Linked DNA regions of Homo sapiens. The protein of the gene in region 1 interacts with the protein of each later gene in a pairwise test. Each region holds a gene or a part of one and is shown on either strand. Other genes may lie near its edges. The genes, in order: PRDM6, IQUB, USP54 and GEM.

Region 1 (7,029 bases):
AGCCCGCCACACATAGATTGCTCTTCTCAGTTAAACCTTGGCCAATTGATTCCAGCCAATAGTGTGCTGTCAGTACTTTACTTACTGCTCAATCTCACTAACCTGACATTTATGGTGCACTGATTGGCCTCTGTCAGTGGTGCTGGTTGTAAATTCACTTTGAAAAGCTTTGTGTTAACAGCCTTCAACCAGGCTCCAAGAAGAGTACGAACAGGCAGCCTGACAATTGCTCGACCTCCTGCCCTTATTACAGTGAGTAAATCAGGGTTTGAGCCATTAGGCTGGAGCCTGGGGCCTACACAAAAAGGATTGACATGACGAAAGGTCAACCTCTGTCACACATGTGTAACAATTTGGATAATGGAATTCTGTAACTTATTTGAGTGAGGTGGCAAATGCTTACAAGGAAAAGTATATTCTGCTCTGGCTTCTCTGACTTTTATGCTAAGTACTTATACCGAAGTCTGTATTTCCTGTGTAAATATACAAGGAATGTCTGAACTAATGAAATCTTGGGGTATATACGATCCTAAAAAAGAATGAAAGAAAAAGAACGAAGGAGGCAGGCTCATAGTTGTTCTACATATAGGGTTCTTTAGAATAGCAAATGGTTTTTCCCATACTACCAGTGTATTAAATCCATCTTCTGAGACAAGAGGACTTTGATATTGTAGGCATATTCCCCAGCTGAGTAATGTGTAGTTTTTCATATTCAATCACAACAATTTTTAATCCATATTATACTACAACTGTAAGTGATTTCTGGGTAACACAATAGATATTCTCAAATTAAAACTGCTTTAATTTACACAGTGAAATAAGAAGATTCCCCTGCAGGCTTCTTGGGACCAGTGTTATGGTATGACATTTCCATCAGATCACTTGCTGCCAGGCAGTGACTGGGGAGGGCAGGTTTCATTTACCCACTAACCTCTGAGATACTGATTTCTCTTTTTATACCTTACTTTTAAGTCAGTGTGGGAAAAGAAAAAAAAATTACATGGTGTAAGAAAATATGCAGTTATGGACCAGTAAATATTTGTGAATTATTTTCTTCATATTGAGAAAATGCTATTGATAAAAGAAGCAATTTGTAAAAATAGATAAACTGAACTAATGAGAAAAATAATCCGGTGGATACAGAACTCATCAGTCTTTATAAAGTGTTTGCAGCTAAAGCACTGTAGTGTCACATGCATGTTGGGATTAAACCTCACTGATGTGAGAATGTCCAAATGGCTGTTATAATTTTTTTTTAAAGCAGAATTATTCTCGGACTTAGAAAACCAAGGGTGGCACTGTGCAGCATGATACATAAACCAAAAGGACCAGAACTTTAAATGGACATTTTCAAAGCAACTTAAAGTACTAAGTTTTGACTTTTAACACAATGCTGGAAACCATTCCAAGAGGTGGCAGATGGTTTTACAGTTTATGTAAAACTACAAAATGCTCACACTCTATCAAATAGGCACCACTATAAAAGACATCTTCAAATCAAATGAGGCAAAGCCAGAGAGATACACCAGCTGTTACTCTGCATAATTTAAAACATAATAGTAGCATTACTATGGTTTATTTTTAAGGAGAAATTATTTGAATTTCACAAATTTGACATATTCAAAACCAAACTGACAGGCAGACTATTATATTAAATGATAAATTGCTGAAAAACATGATTTTTACTTCAATATAACTGCGACAGCTACATAATTCTATCCCCTAGTGTCTTGGTGAATCACGCCAAAATGAGCCAAAGTCTATAAAGCAGAATATGGAATATATAATTACAGTACTATCACTGCGACAACTTTTAAGTGATTCTAATTTAATTGAAAATGATTAATTTAAAATAATTTTTTCAACATCTAAATACATATAAGTGGGTATAGTACTGTATATATGAAATTGAGTCATTTATAGAAACATACATAATATATTTAAAATATGAAATCAATTCATTTTCTTCTAGAACCAATTACCTATGATGGTTTTGAAATATAAACATTTAGCAATGTGTAATATATTTTTAATATTGGTTTTCATTAATATATTTTGACTTAAGCTAAGCAGTAATGATGAAAAATAGACCATTTGCTTAACAGCAAAACTCTTATTAAATCTAAAATATTATGGCACAAAACCAAATCACAAAAAGGCTCACATTATGTTATCCCCCTTGATTTTCTGAAGAAAAATAATGAAGGTTTCCACATAGTGCAAATGAAAACGAGACACTCAAATTTACTCAGGCAAAGAGAAGACAGGTTCTGTAAAATTAAAGCCCTTTCTAGTATCTTAACTGTATTACTAACAAGTCACTACATTATTTCAATTAGCAGGATAATTTTTCTAGGGTGAAAATAAGTGCAATTTATTTTGTCATTCTTGCTAAAATTTCTTGTCAAGTCAGGCACTGAGTTGAAAGGCCTGAGTAATTCTAGCCTATCTTAAACTGTAACCTTATTTTAAACTTCCGTATTTTATTCCAGTAGAATTTTAAGTATACACTGGGTACATTCCTCAGGTCCAGTCATATTAAATTCTGATGTTAAGCAGAAAGAGGAAACCGTGTGCAACTAGATTAATTTATCTCAAGAGAAAGGGGGCACATTAATAATTGAGATAATGTTTTCATAAATGTTGGAATCAAATGTGCCTTTTCACTTCTTTATTGGAAAACACATTAGGATAAAATTATCTCATTCTCATCAATAAGACCTAATTGCTGAGAAAGATTGTTTTCTTTGGAAAACATTGAGAAAGATTTTATTTCATATGATGTCCAAATAGCTAGAAATGTATCATGCATCCAAGTCTTGGAATAAATATATATAACCAAGGCAAGTCATTGTCTGATGCACCTTGTAATGTTTTGTTTTAAAGTATCTGAATTTATTATTGTTTAAAAAACACATTAAAATTCTGATTCTAAAAGAAACTAGCAAAAATAAATGACTAATTATTTGGCTTTTAGCTTGTAATCTTCTTAAACTATAAAAAATAAAAAATTACCTTGGCTTATTGCAAAAAAAGAAAAAACAACTCTCTTGGAATTTCCCATAAATACCCAGAAGAGTCAAAATGTACTGAATATAATGAAATGATATTTAACTTCCTTTAAATTGCTGTATTTTGAAGAACTATGATTATACACAAAGAAAATATTAACTAAAACAATGATTGCATGCTTACAAACCAAACAAGCTCTCCATGGCTGATGTATGTTAAATAACAAAAAGTCATTTTTCTACAAAGAAAATAGAGCTTCTAATGATTAAATAAAAGGAGTAACTAAGGTGAATCTGATTGTTTCTGTAATAAGCCTTCATGTGTATAATAAAGTACAACCATACTAAAAACAATGAAGTGTAAACTGAAACAAAAATCCATCATCTACTTGGAAATAGTGACAGGAAAAGATTAGCAATCCATTTATTGTACTGAAATAAAGATAAGTAACCCTGGTAAGATCCATCAGGACCTGAGTATTGAACTTGAAATAAAAAGACATTTCTTCATCAGCAAATGACTTGAAAAAATGTGAGGAAGAGAAATGATTACAGTTGCCTTTTAAAATAAAATAATCATGATTCAACTGCTTTTAATTTTTTTAATACATTTTGTTGACTTGCTATTCTGGAAGACATCTAAAAGAATAAGTTTTTGAAATGGATAATTATTACATGAGTCATTAAACAATTATTGCCAAACATTTCCGATAGACCTACAATGTATTCTACTTACTGATTCTAATGTGAATAATATGATGATTTTTTTAAATTTCAGAAGAAAATTTAGCTTTGAAAGAAAGAACTAAAATTTAAGGAACAATCTAACATTTGGAATATTGTATTATAAATGTAACAATTCAAACGGTCATGTTTCATAAAAATAAATCATAATGCTTAAAAATTTTAAACTCATATTCTATATCTTAAAAATCATTATGCTAATAAAAATCTGAAACCTATTTTATAAAGTAAGTATTTTATTTTACAAATGGATATTGGCACTAAGTTACCTGGCCCCAGTTAGTCGCATTTCACGTGATCTCCCAGGAGACTGACACATTTTGTATGGCTAAAGTTTTAAAATCCCTTCAATTCCCAAATGTACCTTATTCTAACTGTTGTTACAGATAATTAAAAAAAATAGATTATGTCCTGAATTTAGGAGTTGGATCCTGTAGATCATCCAAGCATACACCCAGCAAGTCTTTTTTCTAACAGAGAACCAACTCTAAGAACCATCCCAGCACACTCAACTCACATGCCCTGAACAATAGATAAAATTCACTTTATATCTACTGAAGTATCAAGAAAAAGAAAAACACTGACTAAATTCCCCAGTCTCTTTACTACAACAAAATTTTAACTTCATCAAGTACAAGTAAAGGTAGAAAAGAAAGGTTTCATAGTTTTCAGTGTTAATATGCATTGTTATAGTCTATATGTGTAGTGGCCTCCTGCCAACATCCCAATCATTCAAAGCCTTCTGGGGGGGAAAAAACCCACAATGAACTATGAGATTTTTGTTCATGTTTATGTCTTTGTCCCCTGGCACTCTAAAAATAGATAGGCATCAAAGGGCAATATAATAGTGTTCAGTTTTAACATTTTCAGGTAGAGTAAATTTGTACTATTGAACAATTGCTGTACGATTTTCTTAGAAAAATATTGGCAGACCTTTAACTATATGATATTAGAGTTCCTAATAACACTACTGGAACATGAGAAGTACCTAAAAGTGTTTTATAAACTTTAAACCACATTGGAGGTTACAATTAATTAGTCAGAAACAAAAACCAAAATGTTTCCAAACCAGATGCTTTGAGCCGGGGCACTCCAGCAGATAACTATAGGGTAGGTAGTTCATTGGCTTCCACGTCCTCATTTTGGGCTGCTGGGCTGTAGACTCATACACTCAGCTCCTCCTCCATCAAAAGAGGCTTTGCAGACACAGGCCTCAGGACCCCATCCCCAACAGTCACAGGAGGGTTCCGGATACCAGGTCTGTTTTTCATACTGTATCTCCATGGCCTAATATAGTGCTGGCCAGAGTGGGCACTCATCAAAAATTTGAGTGGATTAATGAGTCCCATGAGCTTTATTTAGTGAATATAAGGCAGCTCACAGTGAAAAAGATCATTTTGACAGGCCAGCAAGCCAAGTATGAGAGGCAATCTCTTGCAGAAACGATGCATTAATGGAGCCCAGGGGTTCATGTCAACCTGACCCCTGGCATTTAAGAAACTTTATTTTCTAGCTATTCCTACTTTATTATACCACTTGCCCAGTTAGTCAGATTTACATATTGTTTAAGGGTATGACTTCTGTCATCTTGTATTACATAAGCAACTTTCCATGGATGGAGGTGGCTAAGATTGGTAGGGGGATGACCTAATGATAGGCATCTATCTCTTCAGAAGTGAACCTCAATAATCCACCATGATGTTTTGGGAGAAACCTCAGGCTGACATTTTTCAAATAGGTTATTTTTAAATAATTGCTTCAGGTAAGATTGTGCCATTAAAGTATTACCCTCAATTGGGTTACACCAAAGTGCTCACACTGTTCCCATGTTTTGATTTTCCATATTGATGAAGATTACATAATTTCCGTTCATCAGAGAAGCAGCAGAATTTGCGATTTCTGATTCCCAATATAATTTGCTTAATTTGGGCCCTTTGATTCCCAATATAATTTGCTTACTTTGGGCCCTTTGAAAGTTGTGAAACATGTGATCTCTCACGTTCAACTTTGACAAAATTGTTTTTATCTGAGAAAAGGGGCCAGCCTCTCCTTCCTCCCCTCTATGCTTCTGTTCCTTTCTGCTCACTACACAGAAACACACTGGAAGTGCTTGGAATGGGACATAAAGGTCACCCAGCTCAAACATTCTAATGCCCACCCTCCGCTGCTCCATCTCCTCAGCTGTTTTCTCTTTTTCTCAAAATTCACAGAGACCAACGGTCAAATCCATTCCAGCTGGAATGGAGGCAGCTTAAGGTGACTCTGTCTTCAGACACCTGTAGGCTGTTTCCCTGGCTGGGTTGCTATTGTGTCAGTCCCAGCTCTGTCAGCCTCCTTACTGCAGGTGCTTCAGACACCAGGCATCTACAGGACCAGAGAAATCTATTCTCCGCTACCCTCTGGGGGCCAAGGGAGGCTCTCTTCGCAGTTGCCACAGCCAAAGGCCAGGCTCCCTGCCGGCCAAGGCTCCCTGCTGGCCAAGGCTCCTGCTCGGTGGGGAGGCGCTGTGCAGCCGGCCACTTACCTCCCAGAGATGCTGCGTGTTCCTCACGGCGCCTGCCTGCACCTTCTCTGGGGGCAGAAGCACGCCTTGGAAAGGTCCAATCCAGGTGCCTTGCTGGATCCTCTGCGCCGCGCAGATGCCGTAGGCCAGGCCGGGCACAGTACTGGTGCAGAGGCACACCTCGCGAGGCAGGTCCCGCAGCCACTCCGGCAGCTCCGGCGGGGGCGCGGCGGCCGCAGCGCTGCTGGTGCCCACAAGCCGGCGCAGCGAGTGCAGTGGCCCATGCATAGGGCACTCGCCGTTGCGGTTGTCCGCGCACATGTCGCAACCTGCGGGAGACAAGAAGGAGGAAGGGAAGGGAGCGGGTTAATCCGGCCGCCCCGAGCGGCCCATCTTTGAGTAAACTCCCGAGACAACAGCATCACCGCCCGCCTGGGTAAGCCACCTTCGAGGAAGGTGATGCCTTGGGGGCACCGAAGCAACTCAGAGGAGGAGGAGAAGAGAACCCGCGCCGCTCCCTTGGAATTCGCCGCACCCAGATCTGCCTGGTACCGGGCCAGGACTCTAGGCTCCCCAAAAAGCCTTCGGATCTGGGCGCAGATAGCATGTCCGCTCTCCACGGAACCGACAGTTCCAGGCTTCTTCCTCCCGTTTCAGTCTCTCTGCATCTCTCCCTCTGTCTCTGTCTCTCTCTCTCTCTTCCCTACTGTCTCTCGTTCCTTCTGACCCTCTCGCCCATTCCTGAGGTTTCTATCTGGAGTTTCAGGATGT
Region 2 (7,029 bases), on another chromosome or scaffold:
GAGTTTGGGCTGAGACAATGGGGTTTTCTAGATATACAATCATGTCGTCTGCAAACAGGGACAATTTGACTTCCTCTTTTCCTAATTGAATAGCCTTTATTTCCTTCTCCTGCCTAATTGCCCTGGCCAGAACTTCCAACACTATGTTGAATAGGAGTGGTGAGAGAGGGCATCCCTGTCTTGTGCCAGTTTTCAAAGGGAATGCTTCCAGTTTTGGCCCATTCAGTATGATATTGGCTGTGGGTTTGTCATAGATAGCTCTTATTATTTTCAGATACGTCCCATCAATACCTAATTTATTGAGAGTTTTTAGCATGAAGTGTTGTTGAATTTTGTCAAAGGCCTTTTCTGCATCTATTGAGATAATCATGTGGTTTTTGTCTTTGGTTCTGTTTATATGCTGGATTACATTTATTGATTTGCGTATATTGAACCAGGCTTGTATCCCAGGGATGAAGCCCACTTGATCATGTTGGATAAGCTTTTTCATGTGCTGCTGGATTCGGTTTGCCAGTATTTTATTGAAGATTTTTGCATCAATGTTCATCAAGGATATTGGTCTAAAATTCTCTTTTTTGGTTGTGTCTCTGCCCAGCTTTGGTATCAGGATGATGCTGGCCTCATAAAATGAGTTAGGGAGGATTCCCTCTTTTTCTATTGATCGGAATAGTTTCAGAAGGAATGGTACCATTTCCTCCTTGTACCTCTGGTAGAATTCGGCTGTGAATCCATCTGGTCCTGGACTCTTTTTGGTTGGTAAGCTATTGATTATTGCCACAATTTCAGCTCCTGTTATTGGTCTATTCAGAGGTTCAACTTCTTCCTGGTTTAGTCTTGGGAGAGTGTATGTGTCCAGGAATTTATCCATTTCTTCTAGATTTTCTAGTTTATTTGCGTAGAGGTGTTTGTAGTATTCTCTGATGGTAGTTTGTATTTCTGTGGGATAGGTGGTGATATCCCCTTTATCATTTTTTATTGCGTCTATTTGATTCTTCTCTCTTTTTTTCTTTATTCGTCTTGCTAGCGGTCTATCAATTTTGTTCATCCTTTCAAAAAACCAGCTCCTGGATTCATTAATTTTTTGAAGGGTTTTTTGTGTCTCTGTTTCCTTCATTTCTGCTCTGATTTTAGTTATTTCTTGCCTTCTGCTAGCTTTTGAAAGTGTTTGCTCTTGCTTTTCTAGTTCTTTTAATTGTGATGTTAGGATGTCAATTTTGGATCTTTCCTGCTTTCTCTTGTGGGCATTTAGTGCTATAAATTTCCCTCTACACACTGCTTTGAATGCATCCCAGAGATGCTGGTATGTTGTGTCTTTGTTCTCGTTGGTTTCAAAGAACATCTTTATTTCTGCCTTCATTTTGTTATGTACCCAGTAGTCATTCAGGAGCATGTTGTTCAGTTTCCATGTAGTTAAGCGGTTTTGAGTGAGATTCTTAATCCTGAGTTCTAGTTTGATTGCACTGTGGTCTGAGAGATAGTTTGTTATAATTTCTGTTCTTTTACATTTGCTGAGGAGAGCTTTACTTCCAAGTATGTGGTCAATTTTGGAATAGGTGTGGTGTGGTGCTGAAAAAAATGTATATTCTGTTGATTTGGGGTGTAGAGTTCTGTAGATGTCTATTAAGTCCACTTGGTGCAGAGCTGAGTTCAATTCCTGGGTATCTTTGTTGACTTTCTGTCTCGTTGATCTGTCTAATGTTGACAGTGGAGTGTTAAAGTCTCCCATTATTAATGTGTGGGAGTCTAAGTCTCTTTGTAGGTCACTCAGGACTTGCTTTATGAATCTGGGTGCTCCTGTATTGGGTGCATATATATTTAGGTTAGCTCTTCTTGTTGAATTGATCCCTTTACCATTAAGTAATGGCCTTCTTTGTATCTTTTGATCTTTGTTGGTTTAAGGTCTGTTTTATCAGAGACTAGGATTGCAACCCCTGCCTTTTTTTGTTTTCCATTTGCTTGGTAGATCTTCCTCCATCCTTTTATTTTGAGCCTATGTGTGTCTCTGCACGTGAGATGGGTTTCCTGAATACAGCACACTGATGGGTCTTGACTCTTTATCCAATTTGCCAGTCTGTGTCTTTTAATTGGAGCATTTAGTCCATTTACATTTAAAGTTAATATTGTTATGTGTGAATTTGATCCTGTCATTATGATGTTAGCTGGTTATTTTGCTCATTAGTTGATGCAGTTTCTTCCTAGTCTCGATGGTCTTTACATTTTGGCGTGATTTTGCAGCGGCTGGTACCAGTTGTTCCTTTCCACGTTTAGCGCTTCTTCAGGCGCTCTTTTAGGGCAGGCCTGGTGGTGACAAAATCTCTCAGCATTTGCTTGTCTGTAAAGTATTTTATTTCTCCTTCACTTATGAAGCTTAGTTTGGCTGGATATGAAATTCTGGGTTGAAAATTCTTTTCTTTAAGAATGTTGAATATTGGCCTCCACTTTCTTCTGGCTTGTAGCCTTCATTTCATTCATTTCATCTTCCATCGCTGATACCCTTCCTTCCAGTTGATCACATCGGCTCCTGAGGCTTCTGCATTCTTCACGTAGTTCTCGAGCCTTGGTTTTCAGCTCCATCAGCTCCTTTAAGCACTTTTCTTTATTGGTTATTGTAGTTATACATTCTTCCAAATTTTTTTCAAAGTTTTCAACTTCTTTGCCTTTGGTTTGAATTTCCTCCTGTAGCTCGGAGTAATTTGATCGTCTGAAGCCTTCTTCTCTCAGCTCGTCAAAGTCATTCTCCATCCAGCTTTGTTCTGTTGCTGGTGAGGAACTGCGTTCCTCTGGAGGAGGAGAGGCACTCTGCTTTTTAGAGTTTCCAGTTTTTCTGCTCTGTTTTTTCCCCATCTTTGTGGTTTTATCTACTTTTGGTCTTTGATGATGGTGATGTACAGATGGGTTTTTGGTGTGGATGTCCTTTCTGTTTGTTAGTTTTCCTTCAAACAGACAGGACCCTCGGCTGCAGGTCTGTTGGAGCACCCGGCCGTGTGAGGTGTCAGTCTGCCCCTGCTGGGGGGTGCCTCCCAGTTAGGCTGCTCGGGGGTCAGGGGCCAGGGACCCACTTGAGGAGGCAGTCTGCCCGTTCTCAGATCTCCAGCTGCGTGCTGGGAGAACCACTGCTCTCTTCAAAGCTGTCAGACAGGGACATTTAAGTCTGCAGAGTTTACTGCTGTCTTTTTGTTTGTCTGTGCCCTGCCCCCAGAGGTGGAGCCTACAGAGGCAGGCAGGCCTCCTTGAGCTGTGGTGGGCTCCACCCAGTTGGAGCTTCCCAGCTGCTTTGTTTACCTAAGCAAGCCTGAGCAATGGCGGGCGCCCCTCCCCCAGCCTCGCTGCCGCCTTGCAGTTTGATCTCAGACTGCTGTGCTAGCAATTAGCGAGACTCCGTGGGCGTAGGACCCTCCGAGCCGGGTGGGGGATATAATCTCCTGGTCCGCCGTTTTTTAAGCCTGTCGGAAAAGCGCAGTATTCGGGTGGGAGTGACCCGATTTTCCAGGTGCCGTCTGTCACCACTTTCTTTGACTAGGAAAGGGAACTCCCTGACCCCTTGCGCTTCCCAAGTGAGGCAATGCCTCGCCCTGCTTCGGCTCGCGCACGGTGCACGCACCCACTGACCTGCGCCCACTGTCTGGCACTCCCTAGTGAGATGAACCCTGTACCTCAGATGGAAATGCAGAAATCACCCGTCTTCTGCGTCGCTCACGCTGGGAGCTGTTGACCAGAGCTATTCCTATTTGGACATCTTGACTCCTCCCCGAAAAAAATACTTTTAAAATAAAGCATAATATTAGCAAATACTTATACCAAATTATTTAATTCTCACAGATGATATCATTATGCCCATTTTACAGATAAAGAAATTAGCACAGAGAGGTTAAGCAATATTTTCAAGAACCCAGAGCTAGTAGGCAGTATATCTGGGATCCAAATCCAGGCAGTCTGGATCCAGAACCCATGCCCTTAACCACTTAACTGTGCTGTATCTCAGTGTAGGAGTCCATGGGGGATTGGGAGGAGAACAGAAAAGGGGTCCTGGTGATGAAGAAAAAGTCTAGAAACTGATCTCCCTGCAGATGAAAAAGCTAAGACCCAGGAATGCCTCATGGTAGGTTAGTGGTAGTCAGATCCAGAATTTAACTAACAATTTTGCCATCAGATATATTATCAGAGAATGTCTTTTATTCTTAAGTGACAAACATGACTATGATTTAAAATAGAGTAAAAAATATTCAGCAGATTTTTTTTCACCCATCTAGAACAAGGAGCTAATTTTATTGGTTCCTAATACCCCCTCATATGTACATATTAATATGCTCTACTTGCATACATATGTGTAAACTCTCACTGCAGCAAATATTAAATGTAAATAACAAAGTACACATATTAAAAGTGTGAAATGTAAAATGTGATCTTCCAACCCAGTTTGGAAAGCTACAGTTGGAAAAGACTTTTCAAAATCATTTTTTCATTATTGTTATCATTCATTTTGTTGTTGTTTTTAAGAGAGTAATATGTGCTTACTAGAAAAAAAACTAACAGAATAGAAGGGGATAAAATAAGAAGTAAAAGTATTTCAGACATGCTAATTTTATTTCTCATTGTTAGGCAGTTTATCTTTCCAGGAATTGTCTATAAAGCTACAATTATATAATATATATACATTTAAATTTGTTTATGATCATATCAATGTCTTTCATAAACTATATTTCTGTTTATTTTTAAACTTTAATACTATTTTATGACTTTTTATAATACGTGCTTAACATTTATTTTTATGTAAAATACGATTCTGCCGCATTCTTTTCAACAACTTCACAGTAACTTCTTTGCAAGGCTAAGCCACATGGTAGTCAACTGTTGTTCATTGATGGACATTTAAGCTGTCTCTAGTGTTTTTTTTTTGTTTTAATAGGATAATTTATTTTTTAAGAATCAGTTTTTAAAGTTATGTTAAAGATCGAACTTTTAAATGCATGCAATTATATATAAACAATAATCTATATTAATTTTTAAATTTTCTGCTGGATGCAGTGGCTCATGCCTGTAATCCCAGCGCTTTGGGAGTCTAAAGTGGGCGGATCTTGAGGTCAGGAGTTGGGAGGCCAGCCTGGCCAACATAGTGAAACCCTGTCTCTACTTAAAAAAAAAAAAAAAAAAAAAAAAAAACAGGCTAGGTGCGGTGGCTCATGCCTGTAATCCCAGCACTTTGGGAGGCTGAGCAGACGGATCACAAGGTCAGGAGATCAAGACCATCCTGGCCAACATGATAAAACCCTGTGTCTACCAAAAATACAAAAATTAGCTGGGCGTGGTGGCATGTGCCTGTAATCCCAGCTACTCGGGAGGCTGAGGCAGGAGAATTGCTTGAACCAGGGAGTTGGAGGTTGCAGTGAGCCAAGATTGCACCACTGCACTCCAGCCTGGCGACAGAGCCAGACTCCATCTCAAAAAGAAAACAAAACAAAATACAAAAATCAGCTGGGAGTGGTGGCAGGAGCCTGCAATCGCAGCTATTGGGGAGGCTGAAACACGGATCACTTGAACCTGGAAGGCAGAGGTTGCAATGAGATGAGATCATGCCACTGCATTCCAGCCTGGGCAACAGAGCAAGACTCCATCTCAACCGGTACAGTGGCTCACGCCTGATCGAGACCATCCCGGCCAACATGGTGAAACCCCGTCTCTACTAAAATACAAAAAATTAGCCGGGCATGGTGGCAGGCACCTGTAGTCCCAGCTACTCGGGAAGCTGAGGCAGGAGAATCGCTTCAACCTGGAAGGCGGAGGTTGCAGTGAGCTGAGATAGCGCCACTGCACTCCAGCCTGGCGACAGAGGGAGACTCTGAAAAAAAACAAAAAACCAAAAACAAAACAACAACAAACAACAACAACAACACCAAAAAACCCTCCAACTCAAAAAATAAAAAAATTTAAAAAAGCACTTTTTAATTTTCAGGGAAAAAAAATCTAAGGCTGGTGTTCACAATGTCAATTTTATTTATGGTTTGTTCTCACTATAAGCTTCCCTGTAATCCATTTCTACCCATTTTTTACTCTGCACAAACTTTTTACCTTTTTGCTCTTTGATTTTTTTTTTTTTTTTTTTTTGAGATGGAGTTTCACTCTTTTTGCCCAGGCTGGAGTGAAGTGGCGCGATCTTGGCTTACTGCAAACTCCACCTCCCAGATTCAAGCAATTCTCCTGCCTCAGCCTCCCCAGTAGCTCAGATTATAGGCACCCCCCACCATGCCTGGCCAATTTTTGTATTTTTAGCAGAGACGGGGTTTCACCATGTTGGCCAGGCTGGTCTCAAACTCCTGACCTCAGGTGCTCCGCCCGCCTCGGCCACCCAAAATGCTGGGATTAGGCTGCTCTTTGAGAGCTTTACAAATTTATTTAATCCTTACAATGACTCTGAGGTAGATCTTCTTGTCTCTGTAGATAGGAAAACTGGAACTGTCAAGAAACTTGCTTAAGATCACAGAGTGCATTAGGTTCGGATCCATAATCAAATTGGAAAAAAAGAAAAACACAAAGAACAATTAAGACTCCAAAGCCCTAATGCATAGTCTTTGTATCCTATCACACTGTGGCATTATATATATAAAACAAAAAACTTTATAATAAAGAGAAATGTATTTTCCAAACTGTGGTTCTCCAGATAACAATGTGTCTCCGTGAGGACCATATAGTAAATACATCCCATAAAAAATGATTACCAACCAAAAGCTTGCAATTAATGTTCCAACTAAAGAAAAAGACTCAAAGTAAAAGCATCAGCTATCCTAGGTACTGCTTGGAGGCAACACCAAACACGACACATAAATCATTGTTGAAAAAAACCGTAAAACATAATGCTGGGTATTTAGTTATGTTGAATGCTAAAACTAATCTTTCCTTAACTAAAGGTCTCCGTCAAATGAAAAGTGTATTTTAGTCAAGTCAGGATTTCTGTTTTGCAAACTCAAAGTCTTATATTATTAAGCATATATTCAGGTTATTTATTTTCCTGATCATAATTTTCAAATCAAATTA
Region 3 (7,029 bases), on another chromosome or scaffold:
CCCACTGTTCCCAATCTGAAAACACTAGCCTCCTGTGGGTAAGCCAAAAACCTTTCCATGTATGAAATGATGGAAAACAGTGGGTCTCAACCTTTTTGCAGTGCCTCACATCCAGAGGCAGATTTACCAAGCCACTGAAACTTAAGCTTCAGGACTCTTTCTCTTGCACAGATTCTCAAGGCCCAATATCTCATTTTCTGTTTCAAAAAATATTTTCCTTAAAGGAGGCCCTCTGAATTGCATAAGCTTCAAGTGTCAGAGAATCTAAGTCTGCCCCATCCACATTACATAAATGGGGCTTTTATAGTATATGTCACTTGAGAAAATACATAATTCAAAAAGCTACTTTGAATTCAGTAATACTAATAAATTTGTATTTTATTAATCAAAGAAACATCTAATGTTATTCACTGTATAAAATTTGTTTGAACTAAATAGATCTAAATATAATATTTGGTCCACATTTGGATTTTGGATTCTTGTGCTCACAGCAAGTAACTCCACAGTCAACAGGGCTAAATTGAAAAGATCATTACAGATTAAGGTTGCCAGAATTAAAGACATACCTCTAGAAGCTGGTGACCTTTAGAAAAAAACACTTTCTCTGTATTAGTGAAATACAGAGAATGATTCTTTCACAAGTATACACAGTACAGCTTAATGTGCTACCATTTTTCTCAGGCCAAAGTAATAAACCAGGCTCCAGCTGCAGCCACCCTAATTATCCCCCACTGTATTCTTCACCAACAAAGTCAGCTTCTCTCAGCCTGTTTCGGAAAAAACCCAAAGCAGTCATTCAAAGGAACTGGCTTGTGCATAAAGGGAGATGAGGCCTGGAAGGACACTGGGCCAGGAGGAGCCTGGCGCCCTAAGAGACAGAGGGGTAAATGAGGCCCAGAGAGCTACAGGTTATTAGCATAAGAGATTCATTATGAGCAGAGCTAGAATGGAACTGAAATCAATGAAGACTAGATAGAATTTGTTCGTGCAAAGCCTGGGAACCCTTTGATAAAACCAGGTGTAAAGTGTGGGAAGTTTCTAAGGAGAAGGACTTTTTTTTTTTTTTGAGACAGAGTCTCGCTCTGTCACCCAGGCTGGAGTGCAGTGATGCGATCTTGGCTCACTGCAACAGCCACCTCCACCTCCCGGGTTCAAGCAATTCTCCTACCTCAGCCTCCCGAGTAGCTGGGATTACAGGCATGCGCCACCATGCCTGGCTATTTTTGTACTTTTAGTAGAGACAGAGTTTCGCCATGTTGGCCAGGCTGGTCTTGAACTCCTGGCCTCAAGTGATCCACCCACCTCGGCCTCCCAAAGTTGTGAACCATGCGGTGGCACAGGCGTGAACCACTGCGCCCATCCAAGGAGATGGACTCTTTAAGCTAATTGACTTCACAGTAACTAAAGTTCAATAAAGTCTTTAAGGAGACACTATTAATTGCATGTGTAGAGAACTCCATGACATTAATAAAAATGACAGTATCAAAGTATCTCCACTAAGGCATTTATTAACTACAAAGGAAAATATAGTAGTTTCACAATGGAGAAACCCAGCAGAAACTACCTTAACCAAGTGATCAAGGTCAAAATAACCAGTAATAATACATATTGACATCATGAATGCCATGATATGATGCACTGAAAAGGACACAATTATTTCTGTGGTATTCTTGCCTAAACCATAATCTCAGTCCAATCATCAGAAAAATATCAGACAAATCCAAATTAAGGAATATTTGACAAATAGCCCTCAAACTGATATTGATCAATACTCTACAAAAATGTCAAGGTTATAAAAGACAAAGAAAGACTAAGAAACTTTTACAGAATACAGAAGAGTAAGGAAGAAAAACACCTAAAATGCAATGTGAGATTCCAGATAGGATCCTGGAACAGAAAAAGAACAATGCAGCTTGTGCAAGATGGCGAAACCCTGTCTCTACAAAACAAAGAAAATTTTTTTTTGAAACAAAGTTTCTCACTTGTCACCCAGGCTGGAGTAAAATGGCGCGATCTTGGCTTACTGCAACCTCAGTCACCTGGGTTCAAGCAATCCTCCTGCCTCAGCCTCTGGAGTAGCTGGGATTACAGGCGCCTGCCACCACGCCCAGCTAATTTTTGTATTTTCAGTAAAGATGGGGTTTCACTATGTTGGCCAGGCTGGTCTCAAACTGCTGACCTCGGGTGATCCGCCCGCCTCAGCCTCCCAAAGTGCTGGGATTACAGGCGTGAGCCACTGCACCTGGCCAAAAAAAATTTTTTTTAATTAGCCAGGCTAATGCTTGCCTGTAGTCCCAGCTACTCAGAAGGGTGAGGCAGGAGGACTTTTTGAGCCTGGAAATTCAAGCCTGTAGTGAGCTATGACTGTGCCACTGCACTCCAGCCAGGGTGACAAAGCAAGACCCTGTCTTTAAAAATAAAAAAAAAATAAATTACAATTTAAAAAAACTGAAAATAAAAAAGGAAAAATAATAATGGTAGGCAAACTGGTGAAATTCAGGAAAGCTCTTTAGTTAATAGTGTTATACCAATACTATTAATTCCTGGTTCTGATAAATGTATTATGGTTATATAAGATGGTATCATTAGAGGTAACTATTTTTCCAACTTTTCTATAAATTCAAAATAAAAAACATTTTAAATTATGCAAATAATTCACTGAAGAAGATGGAACTTTGGGCCCAAAAGGGATTGAGGCATTTGGGAAATAAATATTTATATGTCTAAAGGTAGATGGACCAAGATTGATTTATAGGAAAAGAAGAGATGTGAACGGGCACAGTGGCTCACGCCTGTAATGCCAACACTTTGGGAGGCCGAGGCGGACAGATCACGAGGTCAGGAGCTCGAGACCAGTCTGGCCAACATAGTGAAACCCCATCTGTACTAAAAATACAAAAATTAGCCGGGCGTGGTGGCATGTGCCTGTAATCCCAGCTACTCGGGAGGCTGAGGCAGGAGAATTGCTTGAACCAGGGAGTCGGAGGTTGCAGTGAGCCAAGATCACGCCACTGCACTCCAGCCTGGCAATGGAGTGAGACTTTGTCTCAAAAAAAAAAGAAGAGACGTTGACGTAGTTTGTGATCCTACAATCCACTGAGGGTTATATGTGAAACCTCTTGGTTTACTGTTTAATATCACAGTATGGCAATTATTGGGTGTTTTATTAGTTCAGAAACCTGTTTCTCAGAGCTAAATGTGCGCAGAATGAATTAACAGAGAAGTTTAAAACTCAGCAACATCGGGGTAAGTAAATGTAAAATGATAGCGGTCTTGTTAGGATGATGAAATTATGGATTTTTTTCCTTTTTTCTATTTTCTAAATTAACTATAATTTATAAATAATCTATAAACTATCATTTCCTTAAAATAGGGGTTTAAACACATTTTCCCTAAAAATAGAGTGAAAGGACTTGAGACCAGAGATAACCGACCATTGAGACCCGTAATATCCTAACAATATGAAAGCTGGTTAATAATTGGTAACTATTTCCTATTTAGAAACAGAGGGCCTGGTGTGGATCTCTATTTCCTTTCATTCTATTTTCACTGCTGCTGCTACTAAGGTTCAGATCCTCACCACATCTGGACCACTGCACCACATTACTGACTCATTGCCAGTCCTCTAATCCTACATGTCACTACCACCTGACTCCTAAAACACATTCCACACCATGTCACTCCTTTTCAAAATATTTAATGGCTCCTAGAGGGAGATATTCTTTTGGCTGGAAAAGAACAATGGTATTTTTCTAATTCACAGGAAAGAAAATTAATAGATGGATTTTTCATAAGTTTCTCTACCATAATTTTTTCTTACCTACTTAGTCTACTGCTAGCACTACAGAAACTTGAACAAATAGTAGCAAAATTAAGAGGGAAAAAAATCAAAGCAGTCAATTGGAACTATTTTAACACCTTTTTTCCTAACTGACAGTGTTAAGCCATGTTTGCACTGCTATAAAGAAATACCCAAGGCTGGGTAATTTATAAAGAAAAGAAGTTAATCAGCTAATGGTTCTGCACTGTGTATGGGAAGCATGGCACCAGCATCTGCTCAGCTTCTGGCAAGGCCTCAGGGAGCTTACGATCATGACAGACCGCAAAGGGAAGCCCAGGTGTCACATGGCGAGAGAGACAAGGGAGAGGTCTCAGGCTCTCTTAAACAACCAGATCTTGTGTGAATTAACTGAGTGAGAACTCACTCATCACTGAGCTATTCATGAGGGATCCACCCCCATGATCTAATACCTTCCACTAGGCCCCAACATTGGGGATCACATTTCAGCATTAGATTTGAGGGAACAAACATCCAAATCATATCACTGAATCATGTTCATGATTGTGATTTTTATGCTGCATATTTTTGATATTCACATATTCTGCCAATAAAATTAATTCCTGGCCAGGCACAGTGGCTCACACCTGTAATCCCAGCATTTTAGGAGGCTGAGGTGGGCAGATCACGAGGTCAAGAGATCAAGATCATCCTGGCCAACATGGTGAAACCCCGTCTCTACTAAAAATACAAAAATTAGCTGGGCGTGGTGGCGCGTGCCTGTAGTCCCAGGAGGCTGAGGCAGGAGAATCTTGAACCCGGGAGGCAGAGGTTGCAGTGAGCCAAGATCGCACCACTGCACTCTAGCCTGGTGACAGAGCAAGACTCCAGCTCAAAGAAAAAAAAAATTAATTCCTAATTATAAGATAGAATTAAATATGTCTGGCACCAGCGTAAAGTTTGAGAATCACCGGACCTTACCACCATTTCCAGCTTCATCTACTCATTCACTCACTGATCAAACATTTCATTGATCATCCATTATGTGCCTCTCACTCATCCTCCACTCCAAGTACACTAGACTCCTTTCTTTATAACAAATATACCCTGTCCTTTACTTTCTCATTGTCTTGACTCTAATATTGCCTCTCTCTGGAATGCCTTTCCTCTCCATTTATTCTTGCTGAAAATCTTAACTATCCTACAAGGAAAAGCCTTCCCAGATCATTCTCTCACCCTCTCACCTTTCCAATCTCCCAATTTATTTCATCCTCCTCTGTGCTCTCAGTGCATGGTGGGGTTTGGATTACAATACTCACATTCTCCCTCATGTTACAGTTATTTGGGTACGTGGACTACATTTTGTCTTAAGGGCATCTTTCTAATTCCACACAGAGGTTGAATATAATAGGCATTGAATCACTGACAGTTTCATTGAAAGAGAAAACTTTTTGTTTGAAGGTACCTAGCCTAGAACAACCAATTCTAACATCCTGATAAATTCTGACTCTCCTTAAAGAAAAGAACTCACAAAATGGCCTTATCTAGCTTGAGATACTGCTGACAACTTTTTCTAATAGTGACTATATAAATGGAAACAATATTTGCTTCTGATTCAAGCTTGAAAATAGAAAGAGATAAGCATCTACAACCATAAAAAGGGCCAAGCTATTTGTTGATTTATGAGCTGGTTATCTTAAACTCTCCAGCGAATAGTTACTCAACTCAAACAATTTCCTGAGGGCTGGACTTTGGCAGCTTCAAACTATTACATCATGTACAACAGAAGAATTGTATGCTGATAAAGGACAAAAAGTCTTATTTTTCCTGCACAAGAACTTAGATAACTGTCATGTATAACAAATTTGTCTAAAATTTGTTAAAAAGTAGTTGGAAAGAAAACAAAAAGGCACGTTTCACTTTGTTATAATTGACAAATTATAAGAACTAAGAAATGACAGCTGCAGGCTACTTAGCCCTTCCTTATAAAGATCTAAAGTTGTATAATTTACTGACTTCTAAAGGAAGCAGCATGGTAGTAGAAAGAACATAGTGGTTAAAAGTATACCCTCTGCAGGCCGGGTGCAGTGGCTCACTCCTGTAATCCCAGCACTTTGGGAGGCTGAGGCAAGTAGATCACAAGGTCAGGAGATCGAGACCATCCTGGCTAACACGGTGAAACCCCGTCTCTACTAAAAAACACAAAAAAATTAGCCGGGTGTGGTGGCGAGCACCTGTGGTCCCAGCTACTCGGGAGGATGAGGCAGGAGAATGGCGTGAACCTGGGAGGCGGAGCTTGCAGTGAGCCGAGACTGCGCCACTGCACTCCAGCCTGGGCAACAGAGCGAGACTCCATCTCAAAAAAAACAAAAAGTGCACCCTCTGCAGGGCCAACAATATTGCAGAACCTCGGGAGGTAACATGCTTTTAGTGGAGATCCAAAGGGTCCCATTCCTAGAGAACATTATGTGAATTATACAACTTGGGGACACAGAGTTAGTGGAATAGAACAGGTCTCAGCTCCACCATCTAACAGCTGTGGCATATTGACCAAGTTATTGAACTAACTCTTAGGTACTTCATCAGAAAAAATGTGACTAATAATAACATCTATCTCATAGGATTGTTATAAGAATTAAATAAAATAATGTAGATACGTATAATTAGCCCAGTGCCTAATATGTGGTAAGTGTGGAATAAATGTTTTGATGATGATTATGGTGAGGATAATGATGATGAAGAATAAGATGAATCTACATTCCAATCCTAGCTCCATCACATTCAGGCCATTTACTACCTATAATAAATGTGATCTGCTGAAAGGATGCAACAAAATAATGTACGCAGAATACTTAGGGCCAGGTACAAAACAGGAATTCCATAAAGAGTAACTGTGATTATGATGACTGACCATCCTCTATATGCATTATCTCTCCCCCATCTCTCTTTCTCTTACAGGCAAACACACACACACATATAACTACTATAAAAATTTCAGGAGATTAAACTATAATTGATAGCATAAATCCCAAGGCCATATAAAAAATGGGGAAAAGTGTATCCTTTTTTTTTTCTTAAATGTATCCTTTGTTGTTGTTGTTTTTTGTTTTTGTTTTTGTTTTTTGAGACGGAGTCTCGCAGTCACCCAGGCTGGAGTACAGTGGCGTGATCTTGGCTCACCGCAACCTCCGCCTCGCAGACTCAAGCAATTCTCCTGTCTCAGCCTCCATCCATAGTGGCTGGGATTACAG
Region 4 (7,029 bases), on another chromosome or scaffold:
CTGTGTTCTGTCGCGACTCACAACTGAATCACAGAGTAGGGAGGTGTCTTAGCGATGACTCAGTTCTCCCCTGCATTGATGCATATTAATGTTATTCCTCACTACCCACAGCCCATCTCATCTGGAGGTTTTATTCTTCTTGATTGTCTCAGTGTCAAGGAGTTCACTGCCTCATGAGGCAGCTCAGGAACTGGGCTATAAATAATGACTCATTGTTGTAACATTGATTTCTCTCCTCACTCCTGGAATCTCAGAAGAGTAAAGGGAGAAATAGGGCCAGTGTTGTACAATTGATTCCCTCTTTCTTTGTAAAGGCTGCCAGGTGACTTGCTAGGAAAGAGAAACGGGAGGAAGGGGCTAGCATTTAGAGTGAATGTTTGCAACGGGAGAGGCACTTTGTTAGGTGCCTTATATTTGCTGCTGTTTATTTTGGTCTTCACAAAGTTCTTGTACTCATGAGTAAACTAAGTCTCAGGGAGATCAAAAGCCTTATCCAGAATCACCCAATAAGGAAGGTGGATTTAGAATTTGGGATTTTATCATCTTAGTTCAGTTCATTTTACCATTTCTGGGGAACTTGCTATGTGCCAGGCACTGTGTTAAATACTTCCCACACATATTTTTGATAATACTTGAATCAATCTGGCATTAATATACCTATTTGACAGGTGAAGAAATGGAGGCTTACAAAGTCAAGTGACTTTCCCAGGGTGAAAAAACTAGTACATGGTATGACCAGGATTCAAATCTAGTTGTGATTGAACCCAAATCCTGTGTCTTTTCATAGCCCCCTGCAGCCCCAGGATTTAGCTTCCAAATACTAAGTATGACAGCACATTGGGCATCAGCCACACACCTGGCTCTGGCCTAAGCTCTGGGATACAAGGCGATGGATGAGGTATACCATGCCCCCTAGTAATGAGCTAAGTGTTAGTTGCTATGTTGCAGAGCAGGGTCACATTAACTAATATTTTAAGCAGTAACGATACAGTGCTTTGGGCGTTGACATAAGGAAGAGATGGACTGGGAGTTGTTTTTTGTTTTTAAGAGGGAAGAATTGAAAAAAGTTAGTGGATAGTAGACTTTCAAAAATGTTTGTCCATTAGAATGGAGTTGTATGTATCCAGAGGGTAATATTCCCATAGGCATAAAATGTTAAGAAGACTGACTCATACCTGGAATTTGGAAAGGTAGCCTTCCCAGATATTTTGGGAACTTCTTTGTTGAGAGAGAGAGAGAGAGATGCCCAATATGACAGCACATTGGGCATCAGGCATATGGCTGATCCTGGGGCCGCAGGGGACCATGAAAAGACACAGGATTTGGGTTCAATCATGAGAGAAAGGGAATCCTTTCCCTAGCTTCTTACACAGAGAATCTGTAGGACCTGCTGGAATCACTAGTTGGTTTTGTTTCCCAAGAGGAAGGTTTTCTAAGGCACACCCCTACATTTTTTTTTTTTTAAATCAGCATTCACTGTAAGAAAAAAAATCGACATAATATTCTCATAATGATTTCTCCTAATAAAGATGGATATTGTTACAGTTACACTACAGTAATCTTATGACTCTCTGTATACACTGAATGCCATTCATTCATTCATTCATTCCTAAGAAGTTACTGAATGTATAGCACAGAGCTTGGTGAGGCACTCTGGGGACATGCAAAGAGTCATGGGGCTTCTTCTGCGGAGATGCTCACAGTATGCAATGGAGCATAATGTATACACCAAGTAGAAATTGAGATAGGATGTGGTAAATGTCTTGAAAGTGGTGTAAGGAGAGTGCTGTGGGAATTCCGAGGCGAAAAGATTACCTCTGACTGTGGATTTAAGAGCTTCATGGTTGGCCCGGCATGGTGGCTCATGCCTGTAATCCCAACACTTTGGGAGGCCGAGGCAGGTGGATCACCTGAGGTCAGGAGTCCAAGACCAGCCTGGCCAACATGGTAAAACCCCATCTCTACTAAAAATACAAAAAATTAGCCGGGCGTGGTGGCATGTGCCTGTAATCCCAGCTACTGAGGAGGCTGAGGCAGGCGAGTCATTTGAATCTGGGAGGTGGAGATTGCAGTGAGTCGAGATCTCACCATTGCACTCCAGCCTGGGCAACAAAAGTGAAACTCCATCTCAAAAATGAAATAAAATAAAATAAAAATAAAAATAAAATAAAATAAATAAAATAAATAAAAGCTTCATGGAAGAGATGGTCTCTGAACTGGACCCTAGGGACAACTAGGATTTGGAAGCCCTGAGCTAGGTGGGAAGGCACACCACACATATATAGCAAAGTACGGAAGTCTCATTGGGCTTGGGGTTTGATGATGGGTTTAGACGCAGCTCTGACACTGACTTGGCTGGGTGCTCTTGGACAAGCCACTTAGCCTCCTCAAGCTGCCTCATTAGTGTAATTGGGGTAATACCTCCTTCATAGGGTGTTACGAGGATTAAAGGATATAACATGTTGAGCATGGAGCATGGTGCCTGGCACATAGTAAGTACGAAATGAGCATTAGTTAGAGCTGATTCTGAATCTACCATTTCCTTTTGATGTGCTTATCTTTCAAAAGTGGTGGTTTCCTTGCTTGTGGCCCCTGTCCACTTTGGTCACTGTTGGCTGGGGCCCGTGGAGCTGTCCAGAGGGGACCGGGGCCAGTAGAGTAGAGGACAGTATTTGTAGAGCAGGCATTTCTTCTGAGGTTCCTTGGGATCCCCTGAGCTATGAAAGCTGGAAGCAGTTGAAAGTTTTCAGGGAGAGGGATGCTGGAGTCTCAGAACTTTAGAGGTGCTGCAGGAGTCAGTTCTGGCAGTGAGAGAACACTTGGGCGGGTTTCACACACACACAGCACTTGAGCCAGTCTTGGGCAGAAGGGGCCTCACTTCCAAGCACAAGGAGTGTTAACGAAAAAATTATTAACATGGTAAGGAAGACTTTATTCAGGGCCATTGCAGTAGGCATCCCAATAGTGGGGAGAGATGGGGCTCAATTCCAAGTACAAGAAGAACAAGTGGGCACTTAGCCAAGGAGCAGGTGGGAGGGGGTCAGAGGATAGAAAATTACTAAGAGGAGACGTCAAGGTTAGGGGGATTCTTGCTGAAGTCAGGCCAAGGAGCAGGTGGGAGGGGGTCAGAGGATGGAAAATTACTAAGAGGAGACGTCAAGGTTAGGGGGATTCTTGCTGAAGTCAGGCCAAGGACTTAGACTATCAGAGGTGGTGGGTGAGGAATTTGATCAGATATTGAAGGTGGGGGATTCTCACTAAACTGACTTAGCAGGATTCTTGCTAAAGCTGAATTCTGCCAGGATGGAAACGGAAGCCCAGGGAGAGGCCGGGTAGAGAAGAGGATTCAGAGGAGCCTGACTAAAGTTTGGTCAGGGAGAGAGTCTGTCAGGGGGATCAAATGAGGAAAGACAAACTGGTCTAGAGAAAGTGGCTACTGACCACCATCACCCCTTATAGAACGTCTGTCTGTCCCCATCAGCATGAGTTCTTTTGCTACATAGAGTGTGCACAGACACCCCAGCTTTCTTCCAGTGCACTGGAGAAGTAGGGGTGTCTCCAGACCCAGATTACGGAAAAGCCTCACAGAGACTAATCAGTATCCAAACCTTTCTCCACACCTTTACTGGAAGCAGATTTCAAAGAGCTCTCCTAGAGTCTGGTATTCTTTTCCTTCCCTTCTTCTCACCTGATTAGCACTTGAAAAGGATAAAAGATGAGCTGAGCAACTTAGATGAAGAGAAACCTGGAGCTCTGGTTACTCCCAGGCTTGCACCTGGTTAGGGGAGAGCCTTCAGTCGGGATGCCATGTGTGCTGGAAGGGTCCTGGTGCACACAGCCAGAGGCCGTATCTAAACTCATGTACTGGGGTGGGGGGTAAAGTGGGGAGCACACGTGCTGAGCAGGGAGGAGATGGATTGTTTTAGCCTCCCAGGCCTCCAACACCGTAATTTTCAGGCAAAGGTAAGATCAGACAGAATGATCCTGTCAGGAAGCTTCTAGAACGGGAAAGCATGTTTTTACTTTCATGGCTGTGATCCTTAGTCCACTTTTTCTCTAGACTTGTTCTGATATCTCTTAAGCCAGGAGAAAGTTGGGTTTTCCTTTTCCGTCAGCGATTGGAACACAGTATGTTTCTATTTGAATGACTGGGCACTCAAGCGAGTCCCCTGTACCTGAGTGGTGGGCTGAGAAAGTTCCTCCATCATTGAAGGAGTTGTCTGAGTGCAGGGAGGGGTTTTAGAGAAGAGCTAAGAACCCTGTGGTGGGAAGCAGCAGTCAGGCCATCCCCGTTCTGTGCTGCTCAGGCTCTGACAGTCTCCCTTGCGTTGTCTAATTTACAGGTTGAGGTTGTGAGGTTCTACCCCTGGTAATCCAAATAGTCCCACTGTGATCTCATTCCTTCTGCATATTGTGAGCAGGCACACGATGGGCGAGACAGAGTTTTAATTCCCCAAGGGCAAACACTTACTGATTAGAAGAATGACGCTGTGGGAGGTGGGGAAACTCACAGAAAGACAGGGCCATGCCTGGTTAACTCTCTTCTTATTTGTCCAAGTTTTCCTTCTCTAAGGAAGGGAAACCTCTCCTGATTCCAATTCTTAGATGATGAAGCATTAAACCAGGAGCAGTGTTTTTCGTAAACTGCTCGCTATTGTAAAACAAGAAGTGCCCTGGTTCCAACGTAGCTCTCTTAAGCTAGGATTTATCTGTAGTGAGGAAGTGCTGAGTATGGCAAGAACCAGCTTCCTTCACCTGAAGAAGTGATAATGGCTAACACTGACTGAGTTTCTACTTTGTGCCCAGGCTTAATACAGGTAATTGTCACATAGCCCTAAGGTGTGAGTACTATTATCAATCCCATTGCACAGATGAAGAAAACTGAGGCTCAGAGAGCCTAAGTTGCGTAGACCCCCAGAGTTCATAAGGGATGGCACCTGGATTTGAATTCAGGTTTGCTTGTTTTCACAGCCACAATGCTATATTTATCATTCGTTCACTGTACAAACTTTATTGTGCACCAGCAATGTACCAATGTGCTGGGGGACACAGTAAACAGCATAGATGCAAATGTCTGCCCTAACATTACGAGAGGGGCAGGAGGGACAGAAAATAATAGAATAAGTAAGTTAAATGTGTTGTATGTTAGGTGGCAATAAGTGAGATGGAGAAACATAAAGCAGAGAAGGAATATTGTGGGATAGAAGTGTTGCAATTTTAAATGGATGGCCAGGAAGCACCTCCCCCAGAGGGAGGTAAGGAAACAGGCCTTGTGGGTATTTGAGGGAAAAGATTCTAGACAAAAAGAACAGAAGAAAAATGATAAATCATTATGAAAGTCATAATTTTCAAAAGATGAAATTCAAAACAGGAAACCTCATTGTGAAAATAGAGTGGGGATGGGCTCAATGGTATTGGGATGAGGGAAATCCCACTTGCAAAAATCCCACTGTACCCCTTTTCTACGCCTGCCCCCCATGGATTTTCCAGGCTGGAACTGCTTTGGCCCATTGTACTGTACTGTGTTCACCCTTCACCTACACAAGATCTGGGCTCAAGTGCAGGGAGGAAAGTTTCCATTACCAAGTAGAGCTGGAGGCTGCATTTCTATTATACTCAAGATGGAAAAACAAGCCCACTTATTCCTAGGGAACAGCATTTTTTTTAAAAAAAGGAAGAAAACTACAGCCAAAACAGGGAGAGTCTCAAGATTCATTCTTGCACTTGTCCGAAGAGGAGCAATGTCTCTGAGCCCAAAGCTCCTGAAATTGCTAGTGAGTATTCAGTAACTACCCACTGAAAGGTACAATGGACTTATGAAAATGTGGCTTACAGTTTCACTGGGTGGTTAATGTTTCCTCATAGCATTAACCATTGAATCTGAGTCAAAAGCTCTTGAGTAAGTTTATCCTCACAAATGATTTTGCCATACAAAAGGTCCAGGAATGATGCAAACAAATGCCTTTTACTCCATGTGGTTTAGTGACACATGTTCGAGAGAGACGTTCTGCTGGATAAGGACTGGAGGAATTATATGTAGAATGTTGTTGAAGGTGACAAAAAATAGTAATTTGCCTTTGAAAATATCTGTATACTTACATAATTAATTGCATATTTAGTAAGTTTATGTTCTAGCACAATTTTCTACCTGACCCTCTTATGGAGAAGTGTTGCATATTCGCCTGACTCCAATATCTTTGTTCTTTCTTCTCTAGAAGATACATATGAACGAACCCTGATGGTTGATGGGGAAAGTGCAACGATTATACTCCTGGATATGTGGGAAAATAAGGTATGCAGAGCCTGTAGCTCTCTAAATTCCTTTAGGGCTTTCCTTTCAACAAGTTGTTTGGTGCAAGGGTGACCTTGTCCTATATAGTAGGTGTTCCAGATGAGGTGGGCTCATTTTCTTGATTAAAAGCATACTGCTGAAGAATGAGACTGTTCTAAGGAACAGGTCGTTCACAGATGAGTTCTGAATAACAAGCAAGTTGTAGTGACTTGCCTTTAGTTCTATTAAAAAACACACCCAAAAAGTTTATTTGTTTTAGGGAAAATACAAACAGGCATTGACTGTTATTTTAAATAACATACATCCATCTCATATGAAGTTGAGATTCTCAATACCAGTCTTCAACATTGGCTTTTTAAAGATTTTAAAAAGCTTCAGAACCTATGTGCTAGACTTCTGTTAATTGAAAACCCTCCTAGTCCCACAAAAGTGTTCTTAATCTCATCACTTGGAAAAGGCAAAAGGGAGTTTTTGGGAAGTCAGAAAAGGCTCATTTTTGGTAGATTAAATAGAAATTGGAAATGCTGTTTGGCAGAGAAGTTGTGTAATTTATCAAATCAAGCTGTAGAAGATACTGAAAAGTGAAAACTTTTTGGCATAAATACTGGACAGGCTAGCAATCTTTACAGCCACCAGACATCTTATAGGCATAGAAGACCAATGCTTTTAGGGAGTTGGAAGCGATTTTCTTCCTTTTTCCTATTTTTCCTATCAGCAAGTGTACTTTAGGATACACA

The links.
Region 2: the proteins of PRDM6 (region 1) and IQUB interact in binary tests that used the Homo sapiens proteins (3 or more experiments, as listed by UniProt).
Region 3: the proteins of PRDM6 (region 1) and USP54 interact in binary tests that used the Homo sapiens proteins (3 or more experiments, as listed by UniProt).
Region 4: the proteins of PRDM6 (region 1) and GEM interact in binary tests that used the Homo sapiens proteins (3 or more experiments, as listed by UniProt).

Annotation. Positions count from the first base shown.
Region 1 is NC_000005.10:123,099,212-123,106,240, reverse strand, and holds part of PRDM6 (putative histone-lysine N-methyltransferase PRDM6), read right to left. Parts: intron 7,015-7,029; exon of another isoform or gene 6,704-7,014; intron 6,588-6,703; coding exon 6,280-6,587; intron 1-6,279. UniProt on the Homo sapiens protein: Putative histone methyltransferase that acts as a transcriptional repressor of smooth muscle gene expression.
Region 2 is NC_000007.14:123,524,592-123,531,620, forward strand, and holds part of IQUB (IQ motif and ubiquitin-like domain-containing protein), read right to left. Parts: intron 3,761-7,029; exon of another isoform or gene 3,654-3,760; intron 1-3,653. UniProt on the Homo sapiens protein: Adapter protein that anchors the radial spoke 1 (RS1) complex to the A microtubule of outer doublet microtubules in axonemes. The triple radial spokes (RS1, RS2 and RS3) are required to modulate beating of the sperm flagellum.
Region 3 is NC_000010.11:73,581,338-73,588,366, forward strand, and holds part of USP54 (ubiquitin carboxyl-terminal hydrolase 54), read right to left. Parts: intron 1-7,029.
Region 4 is NC_000008.11:94,252,299-94,259,327, reverse strand, and holds part of GEM (GTP-binding protein GEM), read left to right. Parts: intron 1-6,215; coding exon 6,216-6,292; intron 6,293-7,029. UniProt on the Homo sapiens protein: Could be a regulatory protein, possibly participating in receptor-mediated signal transduction at the plasma membrane. Has guanine nucleotide-binding activity but undetectable intrinsic GTPase activity.